Linked DNA regions of Homo sapiens. The protein of the gene in region 1 binds, or shares a complex with, the protein of each later gene. Each region holds a gene or a part of one and is shown on either strand. Other genes may lie near its edges.

Region 1 (8,811 bases):
TTACTAGTCATGAAACCACCTTTGAAAACAAGTTTTTATTTTTTATATTTTGGAGACGGAGTTTCACTCTTGTTGCCCAGGCTGGAGTGCAATGGCGAGATCTTGGCTCGCCGCAAGCTCTGCCTCCCAGGTTCAAGCAATTCTCCTGCCTCAGCCTCCCGAGTAGCTGGGATTACAGGTGCCCACTACCACACCCAGCTAATTTTGTATTTTCAGTAGGGACGGGGTTTCTCCATGTTGGTCAGTCTGGTCTCGAACTCCCCACCTCAGATGATCCACCTGCCTCGGCCTCCCAAAGTGCTGGGACTACAGGTGAGAGCTACCGTGCCCGGCCTGAAAAGACCTTTTAAGAGGTTTTCAAAGTTCTTAAGCTGGGAAGTAGAAAGAGAGGGGCCAACTTTGACATCTTCTAGAAAATTCTAGAAATGTCATCTGTTGACTAAATATCTTGGACTCTGACTGGAGTCCAGCCCCAACTGCTCACAGCCAAACAGACTGACACTTACATGTCTGCATCCTCATCCCTTCGGTTGGTTTCTGCAGAAAACGATGTCCCCAGGTGCAGGTCCTCCTCCTCACTGATCCTGGAGGGAGAGAACAATGAGGCAGAGCTTTCAAGTCACAACTCAATGAGGCTGAGTTTTATGTTCTAAGAAGAAAACAAAGACATAAGCATTTATAATATCCTATTTACAGTTGGCAAAAAAAAAAAAATGCCGTAGTATATGTAAAGAAAAGAAACTCTAGAAATATATGCAAGCAAACTGTTGGCTGCTAGTGATACCTCCAAGGATTGAGTGGATACACTTATCCTTAGGTATCCATGGGGGATTGGTTCTAGTGTCCCTCAAGGATACCAAAATCTGCAGATAGTGAAGTCCCTTACATAAAATAGTATAATATCTGCATCTAACCTACACACACACTACCATCTGCTTTAAATCATCTCTAGATTACTTATAATACCAAATACAATGTAAATGCTATATAGTTGTCACAAAAGTACACAGTAAACTTTTATTTTTTTAATTTTTGAATTATTTGAATGTTTGATTTATTAATTTATTGAGACGGAGTCTCACTCTGTCACCCAGGCTGAAGTGCAGTGGCGCAATCTCAGCTCACTGCAACCTCTGCCTCCCGAGTTCAAGCAATTCTCCTGCCTCACCCTCCTGAGTAGCTGGGATTACGGGTGCCCACCACAATGCCCGGCTAACTTTTGTATTTTTAATAGCGACAGTGTTTCACCATGTTGGTCAGGCTGGTCTCGAACTCCTGACCTCAGGTAATCCGCCTGCCTCAGCCTCCTGAAGTGCTGGCATTACAGGCATGAGCCACCGCAGCTGGCCTGAATTTATTATTTTTGTTAATTGTTTTTATATGAAACTTCCCCATAGGTTCACTTATTTTATTTTTTTGAGACAGGGTCTTTCTCTGTCACCCAGGCTGGAGTGCAGTGGTGTGATCGCGGCTCACTCTAGCCTCAACCTCCCTGACTCAAGTGATTCTCCCACTTTAATTTCCTGAATAGCTGGGACTACAGGCACATGCCACCACACCCAGATATATACACACACATATATATATGCGTGTGTGTATATATATATATGTGTGTGTGTGTGTGTGTATATGTGTATATACATGTGTGTATATACATATGTGTATATGTGTGTACATATGTGTGTGTGTGTGTGTGTGTGTATACATACACACTTTTTTTTTTTTTTGTAGAGACAGGGGTCTCACTATGTTGCCCAGGCTGGTCTTAAACTCCTGGACTCAAGCTAACCTCAGCCTCCCAAAGTGTTGGGATTATAGGCATGAGTCATCACGCCTACAATACACTCTTACAAAAGGAGTCTACCAACTTGGCTCTAAGTTAACTTTTAAAGACTTTTTGCTTTCTTTGTTTTTAAATAACACACCCTTTGCAAAGCACAAAACCTGCTTCAAGATGTCCTACTAATGCTGCTGCTACAGGCCCCAGCTCTCTGAGGGAACCTAGACCCAGGCAGCCGCTAAAGGTGAATTTGCATCTAAGCTTGTCCTGAACTTACTTATCTTTGCCCCTTTCCTTCAGTTTCTTCATATCCACCATACCACCTGTCTTCATCTGAAAGGGATCATCCTGCAGAAAGCAAACACAGTTAAGAGGAAGCATCTAAATACATGGTAGTGGAATTTTTTTTTTTGTGAAGCACGCTCACTCACTGAAGAGCACTGCAGGGAGGGCTGCCATAACTACTCAGGGAAGACCCCATAACTTACCACTAGAGTGGTCTCCTCTTGTACCTTCTCTCCCACCAGCAAGGCCACAGCACTGAGCAAAACCAAAAAAAAAAGAGAGGGGGAGAGAGAGAAATGGCATAATTCAGAGATAAGGAGGAACCCTCTCAGGTATGCGGATTGCAACATTAGTGCAAGGGTGGGATTTGAGGGGTGGGTAGGCAAGCCGGCTGGAAAAGCCTATAAGCATAAGACAGGGCTCAACGAGCACCGCAGATGCTGGAAGAAGGGTGCGCTGGTGGTGAAGTGGTACACTTTGCCACTTTCCTGTAAAGCCATTTGGCATTATCTTGGCCTGGAAATCTCATTTCTAAGATATTCTCATCATGGAAAGTGCAGCTAAAGATAAATTTAAGAGAATATCCACTGCAGCCTTATTTGATAGTAAAAATTTACAAAATCACCTACATGTCCCAAAATAGGGGATTTGTTAACAAATTACAATACACACATCTGGTGGAATATTATGCAGCCATTAAGGCTTTCTGAAAAATATTCCACAATATGGGTGAATGCCCACAATGTCATAATGAGTTGAAAAGAACAGGGAATAAAAGTACATAGAAAGTTGTTCACAATCTGAGAGAGAGAGACGAAAAAAAACAGATTGGAAAGAGTATTCAATATTAATACCAGTGCATTCTTGGGTGGCTCTGCAAGGAAAAAAAATGTTAACACTGATCATTTCCGGATGGGAGAATTATGGGTGCTTTTTATCGTCTTGACTATACTTTTCTAAATTATACAAACTCTTAACGATCGATATGCATTTCACAATTAATTGGTTTTAATAAAAAACGCGAGTTAGTGATCTGTTTCTGTATCTCTGGAGCACACCCCGAGACGACACAGCTCAGGGCATGTCCTGGTTAAACATTTGCAAAGAACGCTGTTCTCCAAGTTGGGCAGTGGAAGGTGTACAGTGTGTCAAGAGAAAAATCTACGTCTGAGGAGATATTTGTGACAGCGACCCGGACGCGGATGTGTCTGTCGTCCCCGCCGCCTCCTCCTCCTCCCCGCGTGGTACCCACCTCACCCCGTTGGGCCTCTTCCTCAAGTTCTGTACCTCTCTGGTCTCTTCCAGTTTTAATCTTTAAAAAGAAGAAGAAGCAGCAATGCATAAGCTGAGTGATTCCCCGCGGAATCCAAAGCTAACAGAGCCAATAAGGCACCTTCGAGGGCATCCCAGCCCAGCTACTGAGCCACCAGCACAGTGGTCCAGAGGACGACCTTGTGCCTAGACCCACCGGGAGTCAGAGCCACTGCGCATCCCGGAGGCATCTCTCTCAACCGTTCGAGCTTGGGGCGGTGGCCTCACCCCTTGAGCCTCAATTTCTGCGTCCGCAGAAGGAACCACCACCCGAGCTCACAGTTAACAATGTCAGCGAAGCGCCGAGCCGGTGGTGAGTCCCCCAAACAAGTCTATCTTTACCAAGCCTATGGGAGCCCCGCCCCAAACGCACCGAACCTCCTCTGAGTCCTGCTCATCTTCCTCTGACTCCGAGTCGCCCCGGCGGCGACGGAAAATCTTCCGGACGACCGGCATGGTGACAACGGCCGAGTTGTACAGCCGCCGCGCCTCTGCGCAGCGGCCCAGGCTGCTTCCGGCGCGCGGCAGAGCGGTCAGAGCGCCTGCCCCGTCTGGCCCCGCCCCCGGCACGCACAGTCCGCGTGGCCACGCCCCCTCTCCTGGCGTCAGCCTCTTCCGATTGGACGGCAGAGGGAAGGAGGTGGGGCGTCGCCAGACGGCCCCACAACCCTGCGCGTCGCCTCAGAGGGGGCGCGCTTGACTGACAGGCGGCGGCGGCGCAGTTGCGAGTGCAGGTGAGTTCCGGGCCGCCACCGGCTGCTTCTGTGGGCCGGGCCTCTGAGCATTGGCGACCCCAGCCCGGCTCCGGGCTGACAGGGCCTGGCTTCGCCAGGTACGCCAGACGCAGCGGCCCGGTGAGCGGAGCCCGGGACCCCCCCGGCCGCCGCCGCCCCTCTCCCCTCCTCCGGTCGGCGCCCAGGGGGGCCTCTGGGCCCCAGCACCACCCCACTCTGAGCTCCCTGGGGGCTCGTGGCTTCTCCAGAACCGGGGCCGCCCCCCTCTCATTTCTGCCGGGGCCTGACCTAGCGTTGAAAGCATCCGCGTGGCGTCTCGCGTCTCGGGCGCTGACTTTTCTTTCCTCGGGCTCTGAGCCCTGACGTGCGTTTTTTTCTTTCGGAACAAAAGATGACCACTTCTCTGCGGTGCTGACTTAGAGTCCCAGCGCCGACTGCCTCACAAATAATGGCCCCCAGCTTCTCCGCGAGGAGAGGCGCGTCTGATGTTTTGAAGCCACGCAAGAGGGTTTGAGCCGGGGGACTCCTCCTCGGTGCTTGCCGGCCACCCCCCTGGACCTTCACGGGTCTGGTTTTCCTCCTTCGGCAGGTCTGTCGCTCTACCCTCTGCCCCTTCCACCCCGAAGATGCTGTGAGGATAAAGTTTATTTGAAAAACTGGTATCAGCAAACGCTTAGGAAATACCTAAATGCATAAATAATGGCTTCTAGGACTTTTAAGAACCCCTTAAGTAACAGTAGTTTTCCTTTTCTCAGTGTCATCCCTTACTTTGAGAACTACCTCTTATTAAGCAGTTACTATGTGGCAGGCCCTGGGCAAAGCATCATCTCATTGAATTCTCCCAGCAATCCTTTGAGGTAGATTGTTTTTCGTTTTACAAATGAGAATGCGGAGTCTCCGAGGGGCAGTGCACGCCTCAAGTTACCCAGCTAGGAGGTGGAACAGGAATTGGTTGCAGGTCAGTCTCTGCCGCACGGTTTGCACAGGGCCTGGCACGGTAGGAGTGCAGTAGATGTTTGCTGCTGCTGCAGCTGCTGTTACATCTCATTGGCTAGGGGGAGGGGCCGATGGGGGCTGTCTGGGGTTCCCCTTTCTGGAAGACCATTCCGAAGCAGGGCAGCATTTCTAGAATGCCTTACGTTTTCTCTGGAACAGTCTCCACTGAGATTGTTCTTCTCTTCCTTGGGCTGGAAAAAATAGTAGACTCGGGACTTCTTGCACCAGCGTTTTATCTTTGGTCAAAAGCCATATATTAAAGTCTCAAAGTCTTGCCCTCTGCAGACTGGTTCAGCCAAACCCAGATGCACGTGCACTCACTGGATACGGAGTCCCTGTCAGATGATGGAGAGGCTCCTTGGGAATTGCTGCAGGAGTCCAGGGGGTCAACGTCTGCAGCTCTCACGCTCTCAGAGGTGGCTCTGAATCTGCCCATCAAGCAGCCCATCCACCAGGGGGTACTGGACACTACTAAGGAAAGGGCAAGAAGGCCAGGGGCATTTCTGGACCCTCCTCCTCAGCTGAAGTCCCAGGGTACAGATGAGCTGCTCCCACCCTTGCTCCATGAGGCCAGAGGACCCAGTGATAACCACCACCTGTGCTGTGGCAGATCTAATTGAGTGCTCTTTAGCAAAAGGAATGCTGAAAAAGTGGCAGCTATGAATCTGGCAGTAAGTGGCTTTGCCAAGAGACTGCAGCCCAAGTCTCACTGGGCCCTTTTAAGCGTAGGATGAGACTGTCTCTCAAAAGGACCCTCCGAGAAATACAGGTTCTATGCAGTTCAAAGATGAATCCAAGGTCTTAGTCTTGTTTGGGAGTTCAGTTGTTTTAAGAAAATGTACAGATTCAACCTAGGTTTTGGTTGGTTTCCTAGCTCCTTTCTGGAGCCAGATGAAATGTTGGCTTGTTTCAGGGTTCAGGGAGCATTCATGTCCGATTGGATTTGGGATCCAGCAACGTGATACAGTTCACAGCCCAGCTATAGTCGGCATCCAATAAATGTATTTATTGGATCAATGTATTCAACAGATTCTTAGCATTTACTATATGAGCAGGCACTGTTCTAAGTGCTTGAAATAAGTCAGCAAAAGAGACAAAAGATCCCTGATTAGTTGAGTGTATGTTCTCACAGTAAAGTATGTAAAGTGTGTTAGAAGATGGTAAGTGCTGTGGAAAAGAAACAAATAGAGCAAAACAAGGGAATCACCTCCGGGAGGGTGGCAAGGTTGAGTTGCAAATTAAAATTAGCGCATTCTGGTTTGGGATTTGGTTGGAAACATGACAGATAAAGCAGTGGATTGAATGATAGGCCTTGGGTTCCAGTCACTGCCTGGTGGTTTTAGGGGTCTGTAAGCTTGAACTTTATTTTACAAAAGCTTTTATTTAGAGTGTACACCCTGAACTCAAGTCCTGATTGTGGGGTATTTAACAGTGATGAAAGAGCCAGGCTGTTCTTAGCCTTTTACCTTAGCAAGACAAACAGTATCCAACTGGTTCTCATTAGCATGAAGGAGGAAACTTGGAGAAGCCATGCACGTTGACAACAATTTTTTTTTTTTTTTTTGAGACGGAGTCTCACTCAGTTGCCTAGGCTGGAGTGCAGTGGTGCGATCTTGGCTCACTCCAACCTCCGCCTCCCAGGTTCAAGTGATTCTCCTGCCTCAGACTCCTGAGTAGCTGGGATTACAGGCGCCCACCACCACACCTGGCTAATTTATGTATTTTTAGTAGAGACGGGGTTTCACCATGTTGGCCAGGCTGGTCTCAAATTCCTAACCTTGAGTGATCCGCCCGCCTCAGCCTCCCAAAGTGCTGGGATTACAGGTGTGAGCCACTGTGCCCGGCTAACAACAAATATTTAAAGGCAGGAAAGTGGCAGTGCTCTTTGGCTCCAGTGAGCAGTCATGGCTCAATAAATAGAAATTTCAGGAGAGCCAATTTCCATTGATTATAAAGACTTAGGTTTGTAGCAACTAGAGCTGCCCTCTGGGAAAAGGGTGATTTTATCATCAACGACTGCTCAAACTGGGTTTGGAGAACAACCCAGTATGGCTTTTACAGAGCAGAGTTGTGCCTTAAGGGGAAGATGCATGGTTTCTAAACCCCTTTAAACTCTGAGATTGCATGGGGGAAGGCAGCTGCAGATCATGCTGCCTGAAAAGAGAGGATCTGATTTCAGGCCCCAGAAATCATGATTTTCCTAGTTCTTAGTTTCCGCATCTCTAATGTGAGTTTTTTCTAAGGTTTCTAGTCTGAGCTTCGAGACTGAGTTTCTGCTCATGCTTACTCACCACTGAGTGTGAGGCTTTTAATGACCTGGGCCAGTGACTGGCTGCAGCCTAGGGTAGCCCCAAACCCACGCCTTCTCCAATTAAGGGACTCTTCCGGACAGAGCTCAGAGCAAAGGGTAGTAGCAGGCTTTGAGCTGCAGGGAGATACTGTCATATCCTAGACTGAAGGAAGTTAAGCTGAGCAGAAAAATGCTCTGAAGAATGACTCAGAAGAGGCTCTTGTGAGGAAGCTTCCTTGGAGTACGCGTGTTTGGATTTGGGGAGGTGAAGGTCGTCCCCATGCCAGGCTGGCCGGGGCTGTTTGTGACATCGTGGAGCTGAGTGTTCAGAGCATGGGCTTCAGGGCAGGTAGTCGTGGGTTCGAATTTTGGTTCTGCAGCTCAGTAGCTGTGTGACCTTAGCCAGTTATTCCACTTCTCTGAGCCTCGGTGTCTCCATTGTTAGTGATGGAGATGGATTTAGTTTGGAACCTTGCCACCTCCCAGGGTGGTTGTGAGGGTCCAGTGAGGTCACATGTGAGAACACCAGACTAAGATGTTAGTGTCAGTTCCAATATTCAGGGCCGTGGGGCAGGGGGAAGGGCGATGAGGAGACACAGAAGTGTGTGGGCAGCAGAGACTGTGGAAGTGTGGAGGCATGGGGAGGCCTGAGGGCTCTGCTTCGAGAGTCAGAGGATGGTGGCCTCCGAGTGAGGACTGGGTTAAGGGAAGGGGTGGGTGTGTCTGGGACTTAGGGAGAATGCTGTTGTGTGGAGGTAGAGTAAAGACAGCAGGAGGGAGAGAAAGGGTGTGCGAGGGCCAGAGGGGACTGTGGAGGGGGTGGGCACACACCCTGTGCGGGGCTGGGGGTGTGAGATGGCTAATGTGGTTGGGGTCAGCGTGGGCAGGGCTGTGGGCATCGTTGTGTGGGTGGGAGGCCCAGAAGTGTCGCCCTCCCCATCCTGAGGGACTGGTTCCTCGCTGGGAGGAGGAGGATGTAGCCAGAACCTCTGGGAAAACAATGAGTAACAGGCACCAGAGGCAGCCAGGTCCAGATGTGCTGCCTACCTAGGACCACAGGCTGTGCTGGCTGGTCCCTCCCCTGCCCTTCCTCAGGCCTTGCCCCTCCACTTTGCCCCTGTGGGTGGAGTGGCACTTTCCCCCACCCTGGAGGCCCAGGGAAGGAAAGCTGCCTTTATGAGCCTGAAGCATCTTGGAGGTCTCCTGGGGCCAGCAATGGTGGGCTCTTTGCCAAAAGTCTCAGGCCTTCCTCCCCCCATCCTGTGCTCTCCTGCCCCAAGAGAGGAGGCTCTGGTGGGCCGGGAGGGCGGGGCACACGCTGCACCTTGCTGACTTGTTGTACAGTAGGTCCTACTCTGCGTGGCTGCACCTGGAAGCACGTTCTTTCAGCTGCACAGGTGTCTTTCCCTTTTGGC
Region 2 (8,630 bases), on another chromosome or scaffold:
GGCAGGCGGATAACGAGGTCAGGAGATCGAGACCATCCTGGCTAACACCGTGAAACCCTGTCTCTACTAAAAAATACAAAAAAATTGGCTGGGCACGGTGGCGGGCGCCTATAGTCCCAGCTACTCGGGAGGCCGAGGCAGGAGAATGGTGTGAACCCGGGAGGCGGAGCTCGCAGTGAGCTGAGATCGTGCCACTGCACTCCAGCCTGGGTCACAGAGCGAGACTCCGGCTCAAAAAAAAAAAAAGAACGACCGTCTTTTAAATTTGCTTTAAAAACAGCTCCTTGGCTTTAAAAAAGATTGGTTTTGGGAATTTGGCTAAGTTTATGTTCTCAGCAAACAAATCAGATGCCTCTTAAGAGCCAGGATTCTCCTCTCAGAAGGTTACTACCGTACAGCTGCGGGAGAGCTGTGGGATATGTCATCGTTGAATCAGCAGTTCTAGGAAAAGCGAACGATCTCTACTGGTTTCACGCACACTTGGCTAGCCTCAGCTGAATAATGCAGTCCAAGGAACATAAAAACACAAAAATCGTAAGCGTGAAAAATTTTAGTTCATTGGAAAAGGATTTTATTTCACCATAAAAATGCAAACTGGAATAAACACCATCTTTCCTAACGCGAACGTTACAGCTATTTTTAGGTATTTCTGAGCTTCACTTGGAGAAGCAAACGATTATAAAACAAGTTTGCAGCCTGAAATCTGTTTGAAACATTCCAAGTAAAAATAATTTAGCAAAACAGCTTCTTAAAAAAACCACACACACTAACCTTTACTAGAAACCAAAGCTTTTAACCAATCTTTTTTATGCTTAATTCCTTGACGTTGTAAAAAGTGAATGTTTTTGAAGGAGCATCAGACCATTTTGTACCACTCCCCACATACCGACACCTTAGAAAGAACGGCCCGTTTGAGTTTTGATCTTAAAGGACTTGTACCTTCCTCATCCGTGACTCAATGTCAGCACGACGATTCGGCATCCCACCCAAACTGCACTTCCTGATCAGTTAACATTACAAACGGGGGGGAAAGAATCACCAGGGCAACGCTTTCTTTTCAGTGCCAGTGTGACTATGGTGGCCCGTGCACCTCCTAGGCCGTGCACGCAGGGAGGTCGCCAAGCAGACACAGAAATCCCCGTGTGGGGGAATGCAGCAGCTCTGCCATCCTCACGACTGTCGGTCTGTGCAATTTTCCTGACTGAGAGAGGACCGGCCGCATTAAAGCTATCGGATCAAGTTTTAAAGGACTACGTGTTTGAAACTGAAGTGCCAAGTACGCTGCGGTGAGTGGAGAAAGATGGATCTCTAAAGCATGGTGTCTTCCTTCCTGCCGGCGGGCTCCGTGGACATTCGTGGCTGCAGAAGGGTCTTGGCTTTGCAGGGGTGGACGGAGAGCGGCCAAGGAGCGGCCAGGAGGCTCGAGCAGGTCCTGGTCTTTCCCGGACAGGCCGTGGGGAGGCCGTGCCCGTCATTACCTGTTCCAGGTACTGCGGTGCCTGCTCGGGGACCGGGAGCGCGACCGCTCGCTTCGGCGGCGGTGGCGGCTGTGCTTCCTGCTGGCGCTGCCCCTCCGCTCCCGGCTCCGCTCCCTCCGGTGCCTGTCTTTGCTGTGGGACCTCCGGGACCGGGTGTGGTCCGGGCTCGTGCTGCGCCGGCGGGGGCTGTCATCCTTGTAGGCGTGCTTCTTGTGGGGCCGCCGCTCCTTGCGTGGCCTCCCGTCCTCCCTGCTGCTGGCCCGCCTGGCCCGGCTCCTCTCCCGCTTGTGCCGGTCAGCAAGCCCGTCTCCGGTGGCCCGGCCCCGGCCCTTGCTGGGCTCCCGGTTGCACTTGTCCTGTTCTGACCGGGTGTCCTTTCTGGAGACATTCTGCTCGCAGGCAGGGATGCCCTTGGGCTGTTGGTTGTTGTCAGGAATGCAGGAGAGGACGCCGCCCGGGCACCTCTTCTCTGGAGAGCCATCCTCGGGGACCACACGACAGGAGCTCTGAACCTCCTTGCATGGGGCCTCCTCGGCCACGCTCCCGTTCACGCTTTTGGGAGCGCCGTCGGCCTCTGGGTGGGCCGGGCTCTCCTTGGGGGCACCGGCCGGGGGCTGGCCCCCGAGGGGGTGCAGCGTGGTGGCGCTCACACAGCCGGACGACACGGTCTGCAGGATGTCCAGGACGGGCTGCAGCAGGTCGGCGTGTGCCACGCCCAGCTCGTCGTGTGTGTGGCTGTCGTCCGGCTTCTTGCTCAGCAGGATGCTCAGCAGCCGCTCGCGCAGCTCCCGCTCTTTCCGCTGCAGGCCCAGCGCGCGCTCCTTCTCCTCCTCCACGCGCCGCAGCTCGGCCTCCTGCAGCCGCCGCCGCTCCTCCTGCTGCTGGAGCCTCAGCTTCTCCTCCTTCTGCTCCTGTTCCCGTAGCTTCACAGCCTGCGGGGAAGAGGAAAGTGCAGCTGAGCCCGGTTCCTGAGCCTGGCCGGACACGTGGGACAGGAGCTGGGAAGGTGTTTGGAGGCCCCATGGTCTGGGGATGCAGGATCAGCGGCCTGGCTGGACTCCAGCCCAGGGGTGGGGGGCGTCTCCTACGGCGAGCCAGGTCCAGCCCGTCCATCCCTCGGCTCCCGCGGCCACACCTGGGGCCATCATGCGTCTGAGTGAGAAGGAAACCCCTTGGCAAAGCGGCTCGGCGCAGCCCCAGGGCGGGCCTCTTGGGCAGAGCCGAGCCCTGCCGGGAGCCCCACCACGTTGCACACAGGCGCCTGCGGTTAGGTCACAAGCGGCCGCCAGCAACAGGGAGCTGAGATGACGCCGCAGACGCATGCCACCGCCGTAGCTGCGGGGCGAGCCTGGCCTAGCCTGGGTTAGTGTCTTCAATATTCACCATGAGGTAAGGACTGGGCTGCCACATGTCTCAGCCTCTTGTCATGCTCCTTCCCGGGGACTTATCACAACTGTAATCAGACAACAGGTTATGGGGTCGCCCCGCGTTGGACTCCAGGGGGACGCAGCCCTCCTGAGGACAAGGAGCGTGCCGGGGACGTCTGTCCTGGGGAGGTCTGTCTGTCTGTGGGCCCTGGCCCCGGGCTCATGGGAGTTACCAGTCGCGCCTGCAGGAGGAGCAGGGAGGCTCTTGGTGCTGAGGGGGTCGTCAGTACCGGCGCTGGTGAGACCTGTCAGGTTCACGCTGCGGAGGAGGGACCCGGGCCCACGGCAGGCCCCCTCTGTGCGCTCAGCCCTCCCCCCAGCCCACCTTGCCCCTCTGCTCTGGGCCACTGGTGAGGTCACAGCCAGGCCAGCTGACCACACACAGAGGCGCGGGCCAGAGGGAGCGGCCCCCTGCACTCTCTGCCACTGCCCCGACCCAAAGGAAACAGAGAGCCTCTGCCCTGGCCCCCGGGAGGCTGCCAGCCTGCTCGGGGAACCTGAATGCACCAGCTTTGCAAAAGGAAACCGTCACAGCTCTGAAATCATCGGGAACGACAGACGAGCGCTACACCCTCCCGGGAAGGAGCCGTCATCCTCGGCATTAAAGCTGGTTTCGTAGCTACAGCTGCAGCCGGCGGGGAAACGGCGCCGTGACGCCGCCCGCATTTCAGGGGAGGGCACTGAGGGCAGCCCGGGCGCGGCTGGCGGCTGCAGAGGGAGCCCCCGGGTACCTTGGCTCTGCTGAGCAGCTCGGCGATGAGCCGGATGGACTGCAGGTTCCTCTGGGCCAGCAGCAGCTTGCGCTCCTCCAGCTTGATCTTCTCCTGCAGCTGCTTCTGCTCCTCCGCCTGCAGCTTCTCCAGCTTCTTCTGATTCCGGCGCAGCTCACGGTCCCTCTGCTTCTGCTCCCTCTTGCGAAGCTTCTCTTCTCTTTTCCTCTCTCGCTCCAGCTCTTCCAGCTCCTTTTGTTTCCTGTGTGGAACACACCGGGGGTGGTCACAGAGAGCGCCGCAGCCAACACACCACACACCATACAAGCGGCTTTCCAAACACGGCGGAACAGGCCACGGTCCAACGATTAAGCATTTAACTCTTTATCCCAAGGTGGACCTCGGTTGACTCAAAGCAGCCCGAGAGGTGGAAGGAGTGAGCCGGGCGAGGACCTCCGTGACCTTCCAACACACCGTCCTGCTAAGTGTGACCCAACCCTGAAACCACGAAGAAAACGACCACTGGACCGACCACATCAAAAGCCACGCCCCCAGTCAGGGGAAAGACGGATGGGCAGACGGACGGGTGAAAGAGGAACCCCAGCAGGCCCAACAAGGCCCCGGGATGCACAGCGGCGCGGAGGACGCCGGTTCTGCCCACCAGGAACCGCGCTGGGTGACTCCTTGTTGTGCAGGACTCCTGTGAGGGCACCACACAGCACTGGCACGGGGGGACCTCTCTCTAAACAAATCCAACCACAGCCACGCCACTCAGCTCCTTGCACTTTTCCTGTGGAGAGGGGTGTCCAGGAAGTGAGGATGAATGCGGCCGGGGAGGGGCGCGGTCCCCAGAGAGAGTCCACAAGAGACAGTGGGGAGTTCCCTAGCTCAGCCTCCCCCGCCCCGCAGCTCTCAAATGCATTTCAACCAACACCGGACATGGGAACAAGTCGCAGCTGTTCCTATGGAACACGACACGGAGGCGGAGACTTCTGAAGCCCGGGTGGGCGCCGCCAACCGCCTAGTGAGGCCACAAAGCCCGCCGGGGTGACACAGACCCACGCAGACACCAAGGGGAGAGGAGACACGGGGACAAGGAGGAGCAGGCCGGGAGAAAAGGCATCCCACGCTCTGCCACCCCAAGAAGGGGGCCGGGCCAGGTGCCGACGCCCAGACAGTGATCCACACGGTCTCCGGGCGGGGCATGCAGGTCCTCAGGCAGTTTCATGTGCTGAAGGTTTAACCGCCCTGTGAGCTGTCACCGCCCCACGAGCTCGGAGGGCGGCTCAGGGCAGCCCAGCACACAGCACGCCCTTAGGCGGGACCCACAGCGACGCCTCGAGGCTGGGCAGCTTTCAGAGGACAGCTCTCATCAAGCTCAAAGTTACACGTGAGGGCTGAACAAGCAAACATGCCTCATCTCCACCCACCAGAAAGAAATGCAGGAGGCTGCCCTGGGCCTCCCCTCATGCTCAGCCTCTGAGGAAGGACAGTGGGGGACAGCGGGGACAAGTACGGCCCTGCGTGTGGAGCCCTCCTGGCCAGCTCCCCCAGACAACAGGCCTGCCCCTCCCCGGGGCTCTGGACACCCCATCCTGCTCTCGAGAACCTCATGGCCCGGCCCCGCTTCCCCCAATCCCTCTGTGGTCTGGCCAGGCAGACGGGGTCCCTTCCCTGCAGAGACACACTCCACTACTCCAACGTCCATCTCTCCTCAGGGAAAGATCAAGGATGCAGCTTCTTCTCCGCACCCGCAAGCTGCTTTCTGAAATGTTGCGGGGACACTCCTGCGACACCGAGAGGTCCGAGGCTCTGAGTCCCACTCCACACTTCCAGAATGTGGACAGGCACATTCAGCCAGGCCTGGGCTGTGTCTGCAGCCTGGAAGAGTCCCTGTAACGCCCCAGGACTGTCTCCCACCCCAGCTGTCCTGCTCGGCCTGACAGTGGCTGACACAGGGGACCCGGACTCAACCCCACATCCGAACCGCCCCTCCCAGGGACCGCCTCCCAGGATGGCGACGCAGCAGCATGTCCCTCCCTCCCAGGGCGTCTGCCTCTCTGTGCTGCCTGCCTTAGGTCCTGGGAATCCTGACGGCTGACATGGGCCCCCCCAGCACATTCACGGCCACTCGCTTACACACTGCACCTGCCTCACCTAAGGAGCCCTCGGGGTTCAGATTCAGAGGCTGACAACCCGACTCTCCCCTGGGGAGGCAACGGGGGCTACGTAAAGAACACCACGGGCAGGATGGACCTGCTCCCAGGAGTTCAGTGCCGGGACTCTCGTGCAAACATCACCAGCCACACACATCAACACGCTGGCACCAGCGTCACATAAAGCAGTGAGAAATGGAAACAAAACGGACCAACTCGGTCCCACCAGAGGCTGTCCAGGAGCCCCCCAGCCAAGTCCAACACGTCCCAGACTTGATATCGGCGACATGAAGCGCAACAGACGTGCAGGACGCACCAAAGTCGTCAGAGGACACAGCGGGAGGGACGGAGGACGAAGAGGAGTAGGAGGAGGAGGATTCCGCCTCACTAGGAGGGTGGGAGGGACGGAGAAGGAGGAGGAGGAATCCACCTCACTAGGAGGACACGGCAGGAGGGATGGAGGAGGAAGAGGACGAATCCGCCTCACTAGGAGGGCACAGCGGGAGGGATGGAGGAGGAAGAGGAGGAGGAGGAGGAATCCACCTCACTAGGAGGGTGGGAGGGACGGAGAAGGAGGAGGAGGAATCCACCTCACTAGGAGGGTGGGAGGGATGGAGGAGGAGGAGGAGGAATCCACCTCACTAGGAGGGTGGGAGGGATGGAGGAGGAGGAGGAGGAATCCACCTCACTAGGAGGGTGGGAGGGATGGAGGAGGAGGAGGAGGAATCCACCTCACTAGGAGGGTGGGAGGGATGGAGGAGGAAGAGGAGGATTCCGCCTCACTAGGAGGGTGGGAGGGATGGAGGAGGAGGAGGAGGAATCCACCTCACTAGGAGGGTGGGAGGGATGGAGGAGGAGGAGGAGGAGGAGGATTCCGCCTCAGGGGATTCACAGAAAGTTGTTGGTTCCCTCCTGCAATGCTAAGAAGATAAAAGGGGCTACAAAGAGTGACCTGAGGTTGTCTCTGGTACCCCAACCACAGTGAACGACCCAGGCAATTGCTTTAAAGGCCTCTTATGTGAAACCGGGTTTTTGTCCTATCATTGGTTTTTTGTTTTTTTTTTTTTTTTTAAATCTGGCCATCACCATCAACCCTCTACTTCATTTTGTAAATGTAGCCTCAACCTAAATGCAAACTTGCAAACAGCCAAGGCATTCTGCTTGTTTCAGCGGGAGGTGTGAACAGCATGTGGAGGGAGAAGAGGTGGCTCTTCGGGCAAGGCGCGGTCCTGGGAGCCGGCAGAGATCGTGTCAGACCACGACGTGTGACAAGAAAAAGAGAAACATTCATATTCTGCTGCGTCTCAAACAGCCACTCACGCAGGTCCTCACGTGCACAGCTGAGCACCCACAGGCCTGCACACACACCCATACGTGCACACACAAGTACACACACGGGTTCACAGGCACACACGCATGCACACAGGCACATGTGTGCTATGTGCCGATACAGAAGCACACACATGTGGGCACACGTGCACATACACACACAGGTACACACACGAGCTCACACACATGCACGCACACACAGGCACACGTGCACACAGATGCTCAGGCACACACTCGGGCGCACATAGGGACATACAAAGTACACACACCGGTTCACAGGCACACGTGCGTCCATGCACACAGGTACACACACAAGCTCACAAGCATGCATGCACACACACACGCACAGGAATACATGCAGACACACGCACACGGGTCTGCGCACACTCCCAGGTGCCGGACACCAGCGCCGAGGGCCCGCTCCCGCAGAAGGTACCTTTCCTCCGCTCGCTGCCTCTCCTCCGCTTCCTTCTCTCTGCGCTTTTGTTCTTCTCTTTGCTGCTCCAGTTCCTGAAGCTTCTGCCTCTCCAGCTGCCGCTTCTTAATTGAGGCATCACTCAGGTGTTTGGTCGAATCAAAAGAAACCTTTAAAAGCAAAAACAGTGTCAGATGGCCTTCCCCCAAAACCCCCCAGACACACGGCCAGGCGCCCTCTCCTGGGCCGTAGGGCCGAGTGGCCTCAGAGCCTGAGCGCCCGCTCACCGCTCACCGCTCACCACTCATGTCCGGTGCAGACCCAGACAGTGGAGCCCAGAAGCCAAACCAATCCCTTCAAGTCACCATCAGTGGCTCAAGACTTAGCTCATCCCACGGAGTTACGACTCAGCGAGGAACACCAACTAGCCCTCGCCACTTACTGAACACAAGTGACACGCCACCGCTGCGAGACACAGCTCCCCTTCCGCTACCCGGCTCCACCATTCCCTGTGGCCACAGTCACTGAGCAGGCCGCCTGCCCACACCCACAGGGCACATCTTAAGGCCACAAAACCCCCTCCAGGAGGCTGGCTCATTTGTCACTGTGAAGCCAACACGGTCAAAACACGAGGCTAGGCTGAGCGCAGTGGCTCACGCCTGTAATCCCAGCACTTTGGGAGGGCGAGGCAGGCAGTTCATGAGGTCAGGAGTTCGAGACCAGCCTGGCCAATACGGCAAAACCCTGTTTCTACTAAAAATACAAAAATTAGCCAGGTGTGATGGCACGCGCCTGTAGTCCCAGCTACTCGGGAGGCTGAGGCAGAAGAATCGCTCGAACCCAGGAGGCGGAGGATGCACTGAGCAAAGATTGCGCCACTGCACTCCAGTCCAGGAAACAGATCGAGACTCTGCCTCGAAAAAAAAATAAAAATAAAAAAAATAAAAAAAATAAAAAAGCACATGAGGCTAAAGGGAACGTTCAGCCCTGGTTTCAAGGTGCATTCTGGGAAGGCCGGGTTCTCTTGGTTCTGACACGGTTCAAATCCCTGTCAGAGTTCCTGAGGCTCCATCCCTCACCTACTATATGACCTGTGTCTCCCCCACATCTTCCTT
Region 3 (4,258 bases), on another chromosome or scaffold:
GAAGTGGCATTCTGGTATCTGTCTCAGCCTCATATTCATTTTAGTGTAAATCAGTTTCGTCAAGTCTAGGTATGACAAGGTGGGTCTTTGCACCTTCTAGCGATGGGCAGCATCCCACAACACAGTGGTCTAATTGAGGTGCTGCACTATGAGTCCTGCCTGTGTTAACCAGCCTTCCTTCATGTCACAATACTGCTGCTGGATTTGCTTTTTACATCTGCCTATTGCACCTGACTTGGGCATGGATGATATGAGGTAATAAATGCTTTGAAAACCATGAAGGGCCACACAAGTGCTAGTGTTATTGCTGTGGGACAAGGTCTGGGAATATGAGAACCAGCAGCAGCATGGGTGCAGCTGAGAACCAGATGGTGAACATCTGTCTCCAAAGTGCAACATTCCTGAGCACCGGATTTATAAGGCATTTCTTACTCGACAGAATTGACTTCATGGAAGGTATGTAGTTTGACTTTGCCTTAGCCATGTTGATCAAATAGGAGTATTGTGCATGCCGCAGCTAGACAGAGTCCTGGGCCCTTTAAAAACCTTGTCAGTGACTCCCATTGCAGGCCCAGCGCAGTGGTTCACACCTGTAATCCCAGCATTTGGGAGGCTGAGGCAGGCAGATCACTTGAGGCCAAGAGTTCGAGACCAGACTGGCCAACATGGCAAAACCTCCTCTCTACTAAAAATACAAAAGTTAGCCAGGCGTGATGTTGGGTGCCTGTAATTGCAGCTACTCGGGAGGCTGAGGCAGGAGAATCACTTGAATCCAGGAGGCGGAGGTTACAGTGAGCTGAGATCATACCACTGCACTCCAGCCTGGGCCACAGAGAAAGAACGGTGATTCTTTCTAGCAGAAATTAGCAGAGTAAGTGTTTTTGGAACAATTGCTAATGAAAAGAAGGAAAAACAGAAAAAAAAAATTTTCTGTTTATGGGAGGTGACTTATTTCTCTATCAATCCTGTGAGTGATTTAGCATGGCAATTCATGAACACTGAGTTGTTTCCTTGCTCTGATTGTCTGTTGCTCAATGAAATGGCTTTTAGCAGGGCTCAAAGGTGAAGCCAGATTCTCCTGCACTAATAGGATAAGCATGGAGACACCAGTGTTCAGTGTGGCCTCTGGTTGTCTGAAATTTTGCTGTCAACTCTAATACCTTGAAAGAATTAGGTTTCCAAAGTGGGATATTGTGCTGCTGTTTGTGATATAGCATCTAGACTTAGGAAAGGGCAGGAACAATTTAAAAGCACATCTGTAGGCACAAAGAGAATTATAATAGAAATTCAGAATTCCTAGGCATATGACCTAGACTAAAATGTCTTCATAACTACAAATGAAATCAGGGTCATTTATAGTACAAACTACCACAGAAGTCAGTAGTTAGGGGATGGAGATAGATATGAAAAAAAAAAAAAGCAAACCCAGCCTAACTCCCAGGGAGGGAAGAGGGGCGACAGATATGCAGCTACACAATGTTTTTACTATCTTGAGTTCTTTTTACCCAGATTCCATAGCTAAATCCAGATGTATTAATAGGTAGAGACTACTTCAGAAAGGATGAGACTATTTTCTTGCTTAATTATCCACACAGTAATTCAGAAATGTATATTGAACACTTTTTATATGCCAGGCACTGCTGGGCACTGGAAATATAAAAGTAAGCAAAAATGAAAAACTATCCTGTCCTCCTGAGGCTTAGCATCTAAGGGAGACAGGCATTAGTCAACCCCGTGTGGCTGTGAATCAGCCATGATGCTGAGTGCTACAAGAGAGGACTGTGCGGCTGGGAGGGCTTATAACAGGATTTGACCTAGTTAGGGAAGATCTGAGGAAGTGATGAAAGAATGGAAATCAATATGTAAGAGCTCACAAGTCAGAGTGAGATGTTTCTTCCTATACTGCCTGCTTCTAATGAGCATCCACTTCATTGAACCACCTCTTCATTGAGCCAAACCTACCATACAGGGATACATTCTCTGGAGGAAAGTTGAGCAACTATTGCATTTGGGACATTAGAGTATGGGTGGGCTGACAGGTATGTGTATGTTTATTATCCAAGACAGCCAAGGTGTTTATCCTGTTACAACATCCCAGAGGACAGAGGCTCTTATTTGTGACTCTTTTTTCTTACCTGTAACACCAGAGGCATAACGTACATCATAATGCTGCATCTTGTTGACGCTTCAATGCTCACAATTCAAAGGTGATTTCTGAAGCACTTTGTTACACTGGGGACAGCTCCTAAATCCTCCCACTCTTTTTTTGCCTCACCTTGGAGTCTTGGGCTCTGTTGATCACTGACTCTGCCAGGTCTTTCAGCAGGCAAGACAGCTCAGTTAAATTGAGTTTGGACTCCACTGTAGTGCATGCATGAGACAGCACCCCCAATCCCCAACACCCACACACAAACTTTAAATATTTGTAACAGAATTGTTACCATTAATATTGCTTAAAGGCTAACACATTAGCCAGAACCTAGATGTCTTCTGGAAATTTTTTATTGCAATGTTACTTCATCTACATAAAGTTGTCCAATCACTGAAACCTCCAACTGAAATAAATGGTAAGCTTTTTGTTCTCAATTCTGAAATCAGATTCATTAAAAGGCACATGGGGATAGATGATATAATACAACAGGCTTCTTCATGGGAAGCAGTTCCCTAGATGTATGAGGTAATTGGAAAATTCAAGGCTGGTCTCTCAGGTGCATATAATTTATCCAACAGACTCGAGATAAGGCTGATTTTTTTTCCAAGTGGTATTTGTTTAAATGACAAATACTGAGGTTCGGGAGAAGGGAAGTCTGGCTTATAAAAACAGATACCAAGGAGATCCAAACTAAAAATTCTACCAATTAGATCTTTATTCACTGATCATAATATTAAGTCTCTACTATGTGCCAGGAACTGTCCTACATCGGGACAGTATGGTAGTTTAAAAATATCCCTGCCCTCATAGAGCTTACAATCTAATATGAGAGGACAGACAACAAACAGAATATATACATGTTGGCCTGTAATCCCAGCACTTCGGGAGGCTGAGATGGCCAGGAGTTTGAGACCAGCCTGGGCAACATGGCAAAACCCCATCTCTACAAAAAATGCAAAAAATTCACCAGGCATGGGGTCGGGGGGGTGGTGTGCCTATGGTTCCACCTACTCCAGGGGCTGAGGTGGGAGAATCACTTGAACCTCGGGAGGCAGAGGCTGCAGTGAGCCGAGATTGTGCCACTGCACTCCAGCCTGGGTAACAGAGAGAGAGAGACCCTGTCTCCAAAAAAAAAAACCACAAAACAAAACATATATATATGTGAGATGGTGATGAAACTGGGCAACTCTGGGGTGGGAAGTTGCTATTTTGTACAGGGTAGTTAGCTAATAGGGTGATTTTTGATACTGGAGCGAGAACTTGAGAGGAACATGAATCATGAAGGTATCTGTGAAAAAAGCATTTCAGATGGAGGGGCAGTGATTCTAAAGGCCCCAAGACAGTGCTTGGAGTTTGAGGAGCACCAGGCAGACCAGTTTGGCTGGAATAGGGTGATGGAGGCGGATGGGTGGGCAGTAAGAGCAGGGATCCAGATCATGCGGGGTCTTACATGCTGATGTAAAGACTCACTTTTCTGAGATGTGCGGCCAATGGACAGTGGTGAGCAGAAGAGTGACATGAGCTGACATATTTTAAAAGATTTCTCTGATATTGGGTGGTCAAAAAAGATAAAGATTGGGAATTGGCCATTGGATTCTGTAACCTGGAGTTTACTGGTAACCTTGACAAGAGCTATTCCGTGGAGTCTTGAGGATGACAGACTGACTGGATTAGATCTTACAGAGAGTGGGAGGGAAACTAGAGATACCAAACAACAATTCTTTTGAGGTCCTTTTAAAGAGGAGCAGAAAAGGGGAAAGGTTGCTAAAGGGGGATGTGAAATTCTTCTTGAAAACTCAGCCCTAACACCCAATGCGACTATATTTGGAGAAAGGGCCTTTAAGGAGGTGATTAAGGTTAAATGACATCATGTGGGTGGGGTCCTAATCCAATAGGACTGGTGTCCTTATATGAAGAGACACCAGGAGCACATACACACAGGAGAAAGGCCATGTGAAAACAAGGTTGCCATCTGCAAGCCAAGGACAGAGTCCTCACCAAAAAACAACCCTGCCAGCACCTAGATTTTGGACTTCCAGACTCCAGAACTGTGAGAAAACTAATTTCTGTTGTTTAATCCACCCAGTCCATGGTATTGTTATGGCA
Region 4 (9,099 bases), on another chromosome or scaffold:
TCCGCCACCATGCCCAGCTAATTTTTTGTATTTTTAGTAGAGGCAGGGTTTCACCGTGTTTGTTAGGATGGTCTTGATCTCCTGGCCTCGTGATCCACCTGCCTCGGCTTCCCAAAGTGCTGGGATTACAGGCGTGAGCCATCATCCCCTTTTCTACTTCCTTTATGAAATATCCTAGCAGTACTGGGTAGATCTAGCATTCTCTCTTCCAATGAGTTATTAATAAAACTATGGGCTGGGCGCAGTGGCTCACGGCTATAATCCCAGCACTTTGAGAGGCCGAGGCGGGTGGATCACTTGAGGCCAGGAGTTCAAGACCAGCCTGGACAACATGGTGAAACTCTGCCTCTACTAAAATTATAAAAATTAGCCAGGCATGGTGGCGCACGCCTGTAATCTCAGCTACTCAGGAGGCTGAGGCATGAGCTTTGCTTGAACCCAGGAGGTGGGGGGTTGCATTGAGCCAAGATAGCACCACTGCACTCCAGCCTGGGCAACAGAGGCTCTGTCTCAAAAAAAAAAAAAAAAAAAAAAAGAAAAAAGAAAAATAAAAAACTATGATACTGTATAAGGTATAAGGTAAAGTAGAAATGTTACTGTGGCTACTTAATCTGGGAATGTTCCAGAATAAGAACTTGCTAGATGCTAGACAGATACTCCCAGGGGAGTGTGTGTGTGTGTGTGTGTGTGTGTGTGTGTGTGTGTGTGTTTTGCTAAGGGGTAGGGATGGGAGGGTTCACCCACCGCAGTGCAAAATATCAAAATGAAATTACTGTTCAGTCTATGCAAAGTAAAACATTCTGAGCCACCTCTATTAAGTGTTTTTGTTTTTTTTTTTTCTATTCAGAGACTGTCCTCAGTCATGGGAACTCAGCTTTTGCTTTTGGTCACTAATTGCAGACCAGAGCCCACCTCAGATCTCAGTCCATCCTGTTCCCTAAGTCTGGGAATCACCTGCTGCTTCCCCGCTTTTCAAAGCATAGTTAGGGCCGGGCACAGTGACTCATGCCTGTAATCCTAGCACTTTGGGAGACAGAGGCGGGTGGATCACCTGAGGTCAGGAGTTCGAGACCAGCCTGGCCAAGGTGGTGAAACCCTGTCTCTACTAACAATACAAAAACTAGGCCGGATATGGTGGTTCGTGCCTGTAATCCCAGCATAATCCTAGCACTTTGGGAGGCTGAGGCAGGTGGATCATCTGAGGTCAGGAGTTTGAGACCAGCCTGGCCAACATGATGAAACCCTGTCTCTACTAAAAATAGAAAAATTAGCTGGGCATGGTAGCGGGCACCTGGAATCCGAGTTACTCGGGAGGCTGAGGCAGGAGAATCGCTTAAACCCGAGAGGTGGAGGTTGCAGTGAGACAAGTTTGTGTCATTGCACTCCAGCCTGGGCGACAAGAGCGAAACTCCATCTCAGAAAGAAAAAAATGATAAAATAATAAGAATACAAAAATCAGTCAGGTGTGGTGGTGTGTGCCTGTAATCCCAGCTACTCGGGAGGCTGAGGCAGGAGAATCACTTGAACCTGGCGGGTGGAGGTTGCAGTAAGCTGAAATCACACCATTGCACTCCAGCCTGGGAGACAAAAGCAAGACTTTTTCTGGCAGGGCACAGTGGCTCACACCTGTAATCCCAGCACTTTGGGAAGCTGAGGCAGGCGGATCACCTGAAGTCGGGAGTTCGAGACCAGCCTCACCAACATGGTGCAACCCCGTGTATGGTGGCACATGCCTGTAATCCCAGCTACTTGGGAAGGTGAGACAGGAGAATTGCTTGGACCTGGGAGGTGGAGGCTGCAGTGAGCCGAAATCCTGCCACTGCCCTCCAGCCTAGGTGACAGAATAAGATTCGTCTCAAAACATAATAATTTAAAAACTTTTTAAAGTTTTCTGACCTCAATATTCTTCTAATGTCTTTAGATCTTATTCTAAGGAAATCTATCAAAGGCCAACATACTAATCTCTTTATTGAGATACCAAAATCCAAAGGCAGCTAGTACATCAGTCTATTTTAAAAGGTTAAGGACCTAGATTGCTGCCCTCTAGTTTGCTGGTCTATACTGACATCATTGGTGCCCAAACAAAGAGCATTTTGCTTTATGAGGGCCTAGGTAAGCATAAGGTGCCACGTGTGAATATCTACTGTGCTAGAAACAGAACATGGCCAAGGAGTAAAGAATTAGAAAGGTAAGATGTAGCTTTTAGGTTTCCTGGGTCTATAGTCAGCAATAGAAGGATCACACAAGCTGAGAAGTTGAAATACAAAGTTGCCATAAGATACTATCAGGTCACTGCTAACTGCAAATGGCTTCAACACCATGTTATGCCTAAAAGGAGCATAGAACCTCAAAGGCCCACACAATTTCTGTAGGTAAAAGTATCTTCTTCTTTTCTGTTAGACTCAAAAACTTTTGGGACTAATTCCTTCTAAAAAATCATGCCCTGTATTCAGAAGAGAGGGACATAGGATTATTTCTGTTTTCTTGAAACCAAGTTTAGAATTTGAATTTTTCCAATCAGCCTAGTCTTACTTTGGAATCACAAGGCTGAAAAGGAGGATATTAACAGGCCATTTGATAAGTGATCTGATTAGTCGCCATCCTTGCTGGATAAGTTTATTGTGCTTTAAAGGCCAGAGGAAAAGGTGTTTCTCCAGTCTACCTAAGAGTTGATAATCTTAAAATCCAAGTTAATGTTATATTGCAGTTACTTTTTTGATCTTCTCACTCCTTCTAAGTTATATTGCAGTTAAATCTTGAGGGCTGGAGACTTCATCAAGGGCAAAAATCTTTTGAATAGGCTGATTTTCTACAGAACCAGTAGCATGGAAGCAAGAAAAGAACTACTTTCATCATAGATTCCTCAACTTGCTGAGCAGTGCCTCTTTCTGGATGAACAGGAACTTAGCAATTGATTTATTTAAAAAAGGAAAAACTGGTCAGATAATCCTCCCAACGCGTCTACAAAAGTGAAAAAGAGGGGCATCAGTTGCATGCTAATAATAAATATAATTATACCAACATCAAAGTGTAAGAGAGAATAGTGACTCATGAGCATGGCCTTCGGCATCATATAGGTTTAGGTTTTTGATCCCACTCCACTTGTTCTAGGGTGAAGCTGGGTAACTCAATCTCTCTAAGCCTCTCCTCTGGAATTATAATAATACCTAACTCAAGAGTATTGTCAGGATTAAGTGAGATGATCCATATAAAATACATACTTGCCCAGGTAACTGCTGAACAGACAATGCCATTAAAACCAGAGGCCCTCCCGTCCAGGAGGGAGGTGGGGGGGGGGTCAGCCCCCGCCCGGCCAGCCGCCCCATCCAGGAGGTGAGGGGCGCCTCTGCCCGGCCGCCCCTACTGGGAAGTGAGGAGCCCCTCTGCCCGGCCACCACCCCATCTGGGAGGTGTACCCAACAGCTCATTGAGAACGGGCCATGATGACAATGGCGGTTTTGTGGAATAGAAAAGGGGGAAAGGTGGGGAAAAGATTGAGAAATCGGATGGTTGCTGTGTCTGTGTACAAAGAAGTAGACATGGGAGACTTTTCATTTTGTTCTGTACTAAGAAAAATTCTTCTGCCTTGGGATCCTGTTGATCTATGACCTTACCCCCAACCCTGTGCTCTCTCCACTCAGGGTTAAATGGATAAAGGGCAGTGCAAGATGTGCTTTGTTAAACAGATGCTTGAAGGCAGCATGCTCATTAAGAGTCATCACCACTCCCTAATCTCAAGTACCCAGGGACACAAACACTGCGGAAGGCCACAGGGTCCTCTGCCTAGGAAAACCAGAGACCTTTGTTCACTTGTTTATCTGCTGACCTTCCCTCCACTATTGTCCTATGACCCTGCCAAATCCCCCTCTGCGAGAAACACCCAAGAATGATCAATAAAAAAATAAAAAATAAAAAACCAGAGGCCCTGCTAATGGTCTCTTAAAACCAGCTGGTGATCTAGGGCAAGCGAGCAATCCTTATGCTTCCTTGCCCTATAACCAAAAGCAAAAAATCCTTTTTAAAAAAATTAACCATTTGAGCCAAGCACAGTGATGATTTGGACCCCTGCTTTCTGACTGGACCTGCTCCTGGCTCCTGCTTGTCCAGAGTTTTCATAAACAGACTAGGTGACCCCTAATGCAGATTCCCTGACAATCTACAGGCCTAAACGTGAATTAGAAAAAAGTGAGTAGGGTGCCACTTTTTGGAGAAGGGCTGAAGAGAAACAATAATCACTCCAATCTCCGAGTTTTGCCCTTTAGCTTCTCCGCTTTGAGGGCAAAAGGCTGACGGTCTTAACCTAAACTCTGGAGGAGGATGTAGTCCCCAGATTTTTTCTTTCTTTACTTTTTTTTTTTTTTTTTTTGAGACGGAGTCTCGCTCTGTTGCCCAGGCTGGAGTGCAATGGCGCGATCTCGGCTCACTGCAACCTCTGCCTCCCGAGTGCAAGCGATTCTCCTGCCTTAGCCTCCCAAGTAGCTGGGATTACAGGCATGTGCCACTACACTCGACTAATTTTTGTATTTTTAGTAGAGACGGGGTTTCACCATGTTGGTCAGGCTGGTCTCAAACTCCCGACCTCAAGTGATCCGCCCGCCTCAGCCTCCGAAAGTGCTGGGATTACAGACGTGAGCCATCGCGCACGGCTTAGTCCCAAGATTTTAGAGCCAAGAAGCGTTTGCAGGAGGACGTAGGGAAAGACTGACTCCCCTCCCTACAAAGCCCCTTTTCCTTTGACACCTCCTGGCCAAGGAAAACCCTAACCACTGGAGACTTCCAGAGACGGCCAACTCGCACAAACGCTGAAAAAAAAAAAATCCCAAAAGCTCCTCTGTCCCCACTAGAAGCACCGCCCCCCGTACGGGCGTGCGTGAGCGTGCGTACGCACAGGCTGCTGGGATGCCGCTTTTCCCTTCTCGGTCTTCCAGTTTCCCGGCGTGCTTAGGGCGCGCCAAATGGGAGGGGGAGACGCAAGATGGCGGCAGCCGCGAACTCCGGCTCTAGCCTCCCGCTGTTCGACTGCCCAACCTGGTGAGTGGCGGGGCGGCCAGGGCTAGAGTGGCCCGGCCGGAGCTAGCCTGGGCTGGAAGGGCGGCTCTTTTTTTACTTTTCTGCTGCGAGCCGAACGGCTCAGAAACCCCGGAATGGTTGAGGAAAAACTGTTTGCTGCACCGGGCCGGGCGACGTGTTGAAGAACCGAGAGCCTGGAGCCCAGGCCCAGGAACTGAAGAAACCCGGGGTTGGGGGCTCAAAGGCGCTCACTTAGGCAGCCCCTTTGAGCGATTAGCCAGTCGCCGGAGCGCTTCGAGGCCTTGGCCCGAACTTACGCCCAACTCTTGACTGAGTGCCTGGTGCTCTCGTGGAGCATCGCATCTGGCCCCTTCCTGTACGTCCCGAGCGCGCTCGAGCCAGCCCCGGCCCCAACCCTACCTCCAAGCCCCGCATCCCTCTGTGGTTGCTGCATCCCTCGTGCGGCACTTGTCTGTCTGCCACAGAGAATACGAGGGTAGGTTAGCGCCATCCCTGCCCTCAGGGAGCTCCCAGTCTGTGGCACTAGTAGGCATTAGTAATGGTTGGCATGAACCCTTTTTATCCCTTCGAAAGTTCTTGGGAATAATGAAATAATTTAATTTGGTCTTTGAGTAGGGTACAAGTTGAATAAATATGAATTACCTTACAAGGAAACGCTTCTGAATTAAGAGTTTTTTTCTGCTGTAGCTCATCGCAGTGTATTGTTTGTTGCTTGTCTCTGTCTCCCGTTGTATTGCCATCCTCAAGGGCAAAGACTGCATCTTTGTATTCCCAGCTCCTAGGCCTGAGTCAGGCACATAGTAGGAATTCAGAAAGTATGTTTTGGATGTAACATTCCTCCTTTTTCCTGGACAAAATGGCCTTTTGTCCGGTGCATTGTCCTTTCCATAGAGGAGGGGTTGGGGCAGGATTGTGAGATGACTGTGTTGAATCTTCAGTTAGCTAGACAAGGATACGTTTTTTCATGTGCAAATCTAAAGGTTCTAGTGAGGTGGTTCTTTTTTCTAACTTCAAATTAGCAAACCCAAAAAGCAAGCAAATGTGTGGCTATTTTCTGGATCGCTTTGCACTTTTGTAGTAGTTGCTTCAGTCTACAAATTCTGTATCCATTTTGATCCCTCGCTGTATTGATTTCAAATTTGGGCCGAGATAGCAAACATAGTTAGAAAGCACTGTTTTTGAGATCACCTACCCTTTCCTTAGGATCTGGTAGGTACCAGGCACCGTTAGGTGCTTTGACATATGAGTCTCCCTTGAATGGTATGGCTGTAGGATATAGAGGAAACGTCCCCTAATCATGCTGTTGTAGAAAGACCTGTTTCAAGGGTAACATATTCATTTGGTACCTGGTTTCATGGGGCATGATTTTGAATTGCCCTAGTTCCCTAATTATGCACCTCTGATTTGGTTTCAGAGCTCAGGACAGTACTCTTTGCTTACTCTGTGATGAGACTAATCTTGATGAGCCCCAAACAGCAACTAATTTATTCGGTCTTTATATGATATTGGAGTAGGGGTGGATTTCAGATTCAAACTCCAGGTGACTAGACCACCCCAGCTATCGTACTTGCACTCTCTATGCAGTTCTTTCTCTGAGGTGAAGATCCAGTGTTAAAATATAGGTTTCTTGGTGCTGCTCTAAATACAGATCTACTAAAATCTGTTGCAGAGCAATTGAATCACTAGGGAAGTAAGTGTCAAACGTAGAATGGAGCTGTAATAACAGTGAAGTGGATGACATTTCTGCTTGAACATGAACTAATTATAGGCTGGTAGGAGAGCTGCAATGTTGAATGGGACAATGGTTGTAAATAGCATTTATAAACCCATCCTGAAAATGCTTTTTTCTATTTTTATTTTTCAGGGCAGGTAAGCCCCCTCCCGGTTTACATCTGGATGTAGTCAAAGGAGACAAACTAATTGAGGTATGGAAATACATGTCTTACTTTTTTGGCTGCCACACTAAAGATTTTTGCCAGTGACTCACTTTTCCACCCCCTCTCCTGTGCTTTGTTTTCCAGCAATGCTACTTTCTTTCATCCTGATTTTTTTTTTCTGTTAAAAGCACATGGTGACATCACACATTTAAAGCTTATGTCTACCACAGACACTCAATTTTTTGTGACTTCTCTCAAATGAAGGGTTTTAATAGGTCATGGGTCCTGTGGGCCCCAGTCAAACTGGAAGCCCTGTTAGCTTGGTTAATTCCCTCTCCCTGAGTACATGGAGTTGTGTAAACCGTGCAAGGTATGCAGTAACTGAAGAAAGTGAATGATATATATTGAGTTTAACTTCTAAGTTAATTTTAAGACATTCAGGCCCAACTCCTTATAAGAAGTATGGTAAACTAAGACATTTACTCAAAAAGATAATGGAATTGTGGTGAAATTCATTAATTGATTCTTTCAAAACATGTATTGAGTGTTTACTATGTGCCAGTTACTGTGCTTGGCATACAGATTGCAGCAGTAAGCAAAACCAACATAATTTCTGTCCTCAAGTCATCCAGTGGGAGAGACAGAATCACACCAAAAAATTACATAATTATATTTGAATTAAGTACTATAAAAGTTTAGCAGAATTCCAGCTTTTATACAAGCCTCTAGAGAGAACACCACATAGGAGTTCAAGAGAACATGAGTTTTTATTAGCTATTAGTTTGCGTAAATTTTTTATAATCCTTACGGTATTATTTATTTACCAAGAGATGGATATTAAGCCCACTATGACCATGTAGCTGTGAGTCTCCCATATTAGACCAATTTTATATTTGCTTGCTCAGCTAGAATTTAGGTTCAAGGCCCCATTATTGAATGCAGTTTTTTCATTGTGGTTTTTTGGTATTTAATAAAAATGTTGCAGTTCCACGGTTGCTAGATTGAAAAGCTATCTGAGATCTTTTGAAGGTTACTCTGTAAATATATTGTTGTCACTTTTGAGATGTTGTAGAGATAACCAGGTATTTTGCAAAGTATTAAGGCATGCACGAGTTTTAATGATTTCTCCTGTTATGAATACATCATGGACTCAGCCAGTCACAGAGAGCCCCTTTGTCATGGGTTCTTCTCTCTTAAAGATTTAAAACCTCAAGATTATTCAAAGAAATAATTTAGCTAAAATATCTGTAAAACCTTTTTTGCTATAGATTGTTCCACAGTTACAAAATATTTGTTGCTGAATAGCACAAAGCTTGAAGACATATAGGGATCTGTTTTATTACTAGAATTTAGCAAATCTTTAGTTTGCAACAGGAAGAAACAGACAGGGTTGCCTAGTCTTAATGATAACATCACATTCCTTTGTGGAATAATTGGTATTACATTTTCAAAACACTCTAACTTGCCAGACACTCCTCTGATCATTGGTGTCTATTAGCTGATAACGTTCTCTTTCGATGTTGTTAAGTGTGCTGAGTTGCCACAAAGTTGTCAAGTTACAATCCTTAGACATCACTGTATTCTTGAGAGGCGTAGACCTGAGATGTGCTTATTTTTAGATTTAAACTTGATCAGCACTTGATACTAACCGAGCTGTCTATATCCTAGCCTTGTGTCAAAGGCTTGTGATGTGTTGTGATAGCTGGGTTTAAGAAGTGCAATATTAAAACAAAAGCCATGAGTCTTTTAAGCCCAGTGTGTAAAGATACACTCTGAGTTATAACTCAGAGGCACAACTGGATAGCAGTACTGGCCATAGCTAGTCAAGAAGCTACGGCTTTAGTGACTGTTGAAAGCCAGTGCATTATTTCATTCACTTGGACAGAAGCAGCACATTGTTCAACATCTAACACATTTCCTTGGTTCTAAGACATACTGTTTTCTGTTAAAATTCCATACATTTTGGCCAGGTGCGGTGGCGGCTCACACCTGGCCTCCCAGCACTTTGGGAGGCCGAGGCGGGCAGATCACCTGAGGTCAGGAGTTCAAGACCAGGCTGGCCAGCATGGCAAAACCCCGTCTCTACTAAAAGTAAAAAAATTAGCCAGGTGCAGTGGCACACCCCTATAATCCCAGCTACTTGGGAGGCTGAGGCAGGAGAATCGCTTGAACCCAGGAGGCAGAGTTTGCA

Evidence for each region.
Region 2: C9orf78 (region 1) and AKAP17A share a complex: the UniProt entries of both Homo sapiens proteins name them as parts of the spliceosome.
Region 3: C9orf78 (region 1) and TTF2 share a complex: the UniProt entries of both Homo sapiens proteins name them as parts of the spliceosome.
Region 4: C9orf78 (region 1) and PPP1R8 share a complex: the UniProt entries of both Homo sapiens proteins name them as parts of the spliceosome.

What each region holds. Positions count from the first base shown.
Region 1 is NC_000009.12:129,831,390-129,840,200, forward strand, and holds the start of C9orf78 (splicing factor C9orf78), read right to left. Parts: upstream 3,887-8,811; 5' UTR 3,833-3,886; coding exon 3,750-3,832; intron 3,378-3,749; coding exon 3,318-3,377; intron 2,321-3,317; coding exon 2,269-2,320; intron 2,129-2,268; coding exon 2,058-2,128; intron 585-2,057; coding exon 507-584; intron 1-506. UniProt on the Homo sapiens protein: Plays a role in pre-mRNA splicing by promoting usage of the upstream 3'-splice site at alternative NAGNAG splice sites; these are sites featuring alternative acceptor motifs separated by only a few nucleotides. May also modulate exon inclusion events.
Region 2 is NC_000023.11:1,594,439-1,603,068, reverse strand, and holds the end of AKAP17A (A-kinase anchor protein 17A), read right to left. Parts: intron 7,686-8,630; coding exon 7,537-7,685; intron 3,878-7,536; coding exon 3,637-3,877; intron 2,932-3,636; exon of another isoform or gene 2,862-2,931; intron 2,411-2,861; coding exon 1,475-2,410; 3' UTR 549-1,474; downstream 1-548. UniProt on the Homo sapiens protein: Splice factor regulating alternative splice site selection for certain mRNA precursors. Mediates regulation of pre-mRNA splicing in a PKA-dependent manner.
Region 3 is NC_000001.11:117,104,868-117,109,125, forward strand, and holds the end of TTF2 (transcription termination factor 2), read left to right. Parts: 3' UTR 1-2,586; downstream 2,587-4,258. UniProt on the Homo sapiens protein: DsDNA-dependent ATPase which acts as a transcription termination factor by coupling ATP hydrolysis with removal of RNA polymerase II from the DNA template. May contribute to mitotic transcription repression. May also be involved in pre-mRNA splicing.
Region 4 is NC_000001.11:27,825,861-27,834,959, forward strand, and holds the start of PPP1R8 (nuclear inhibitor of protein phosphatase 1), read left to right. Parts: upstream 1-4,921; 5' UTR 4,922-4,975; coding exon 4,976-5,031; exon of another isoform or gene 5,032-5,923; intron 5,924-6,895; coding exon 6,896-6,956; intron 6,957-8,540; exon of another isoform or gene 8,541-8,706; intron 8,707-9,099. UniProt on the Homo sapiens protein: Inhibitor subunit of the major nuclear protein phosphatase-1 (PP-1). It has RNA-binding activity but does not cleave RNA and may target PP-1 to RNA-associated substrates. May also be involved in pre-mRNA splicing.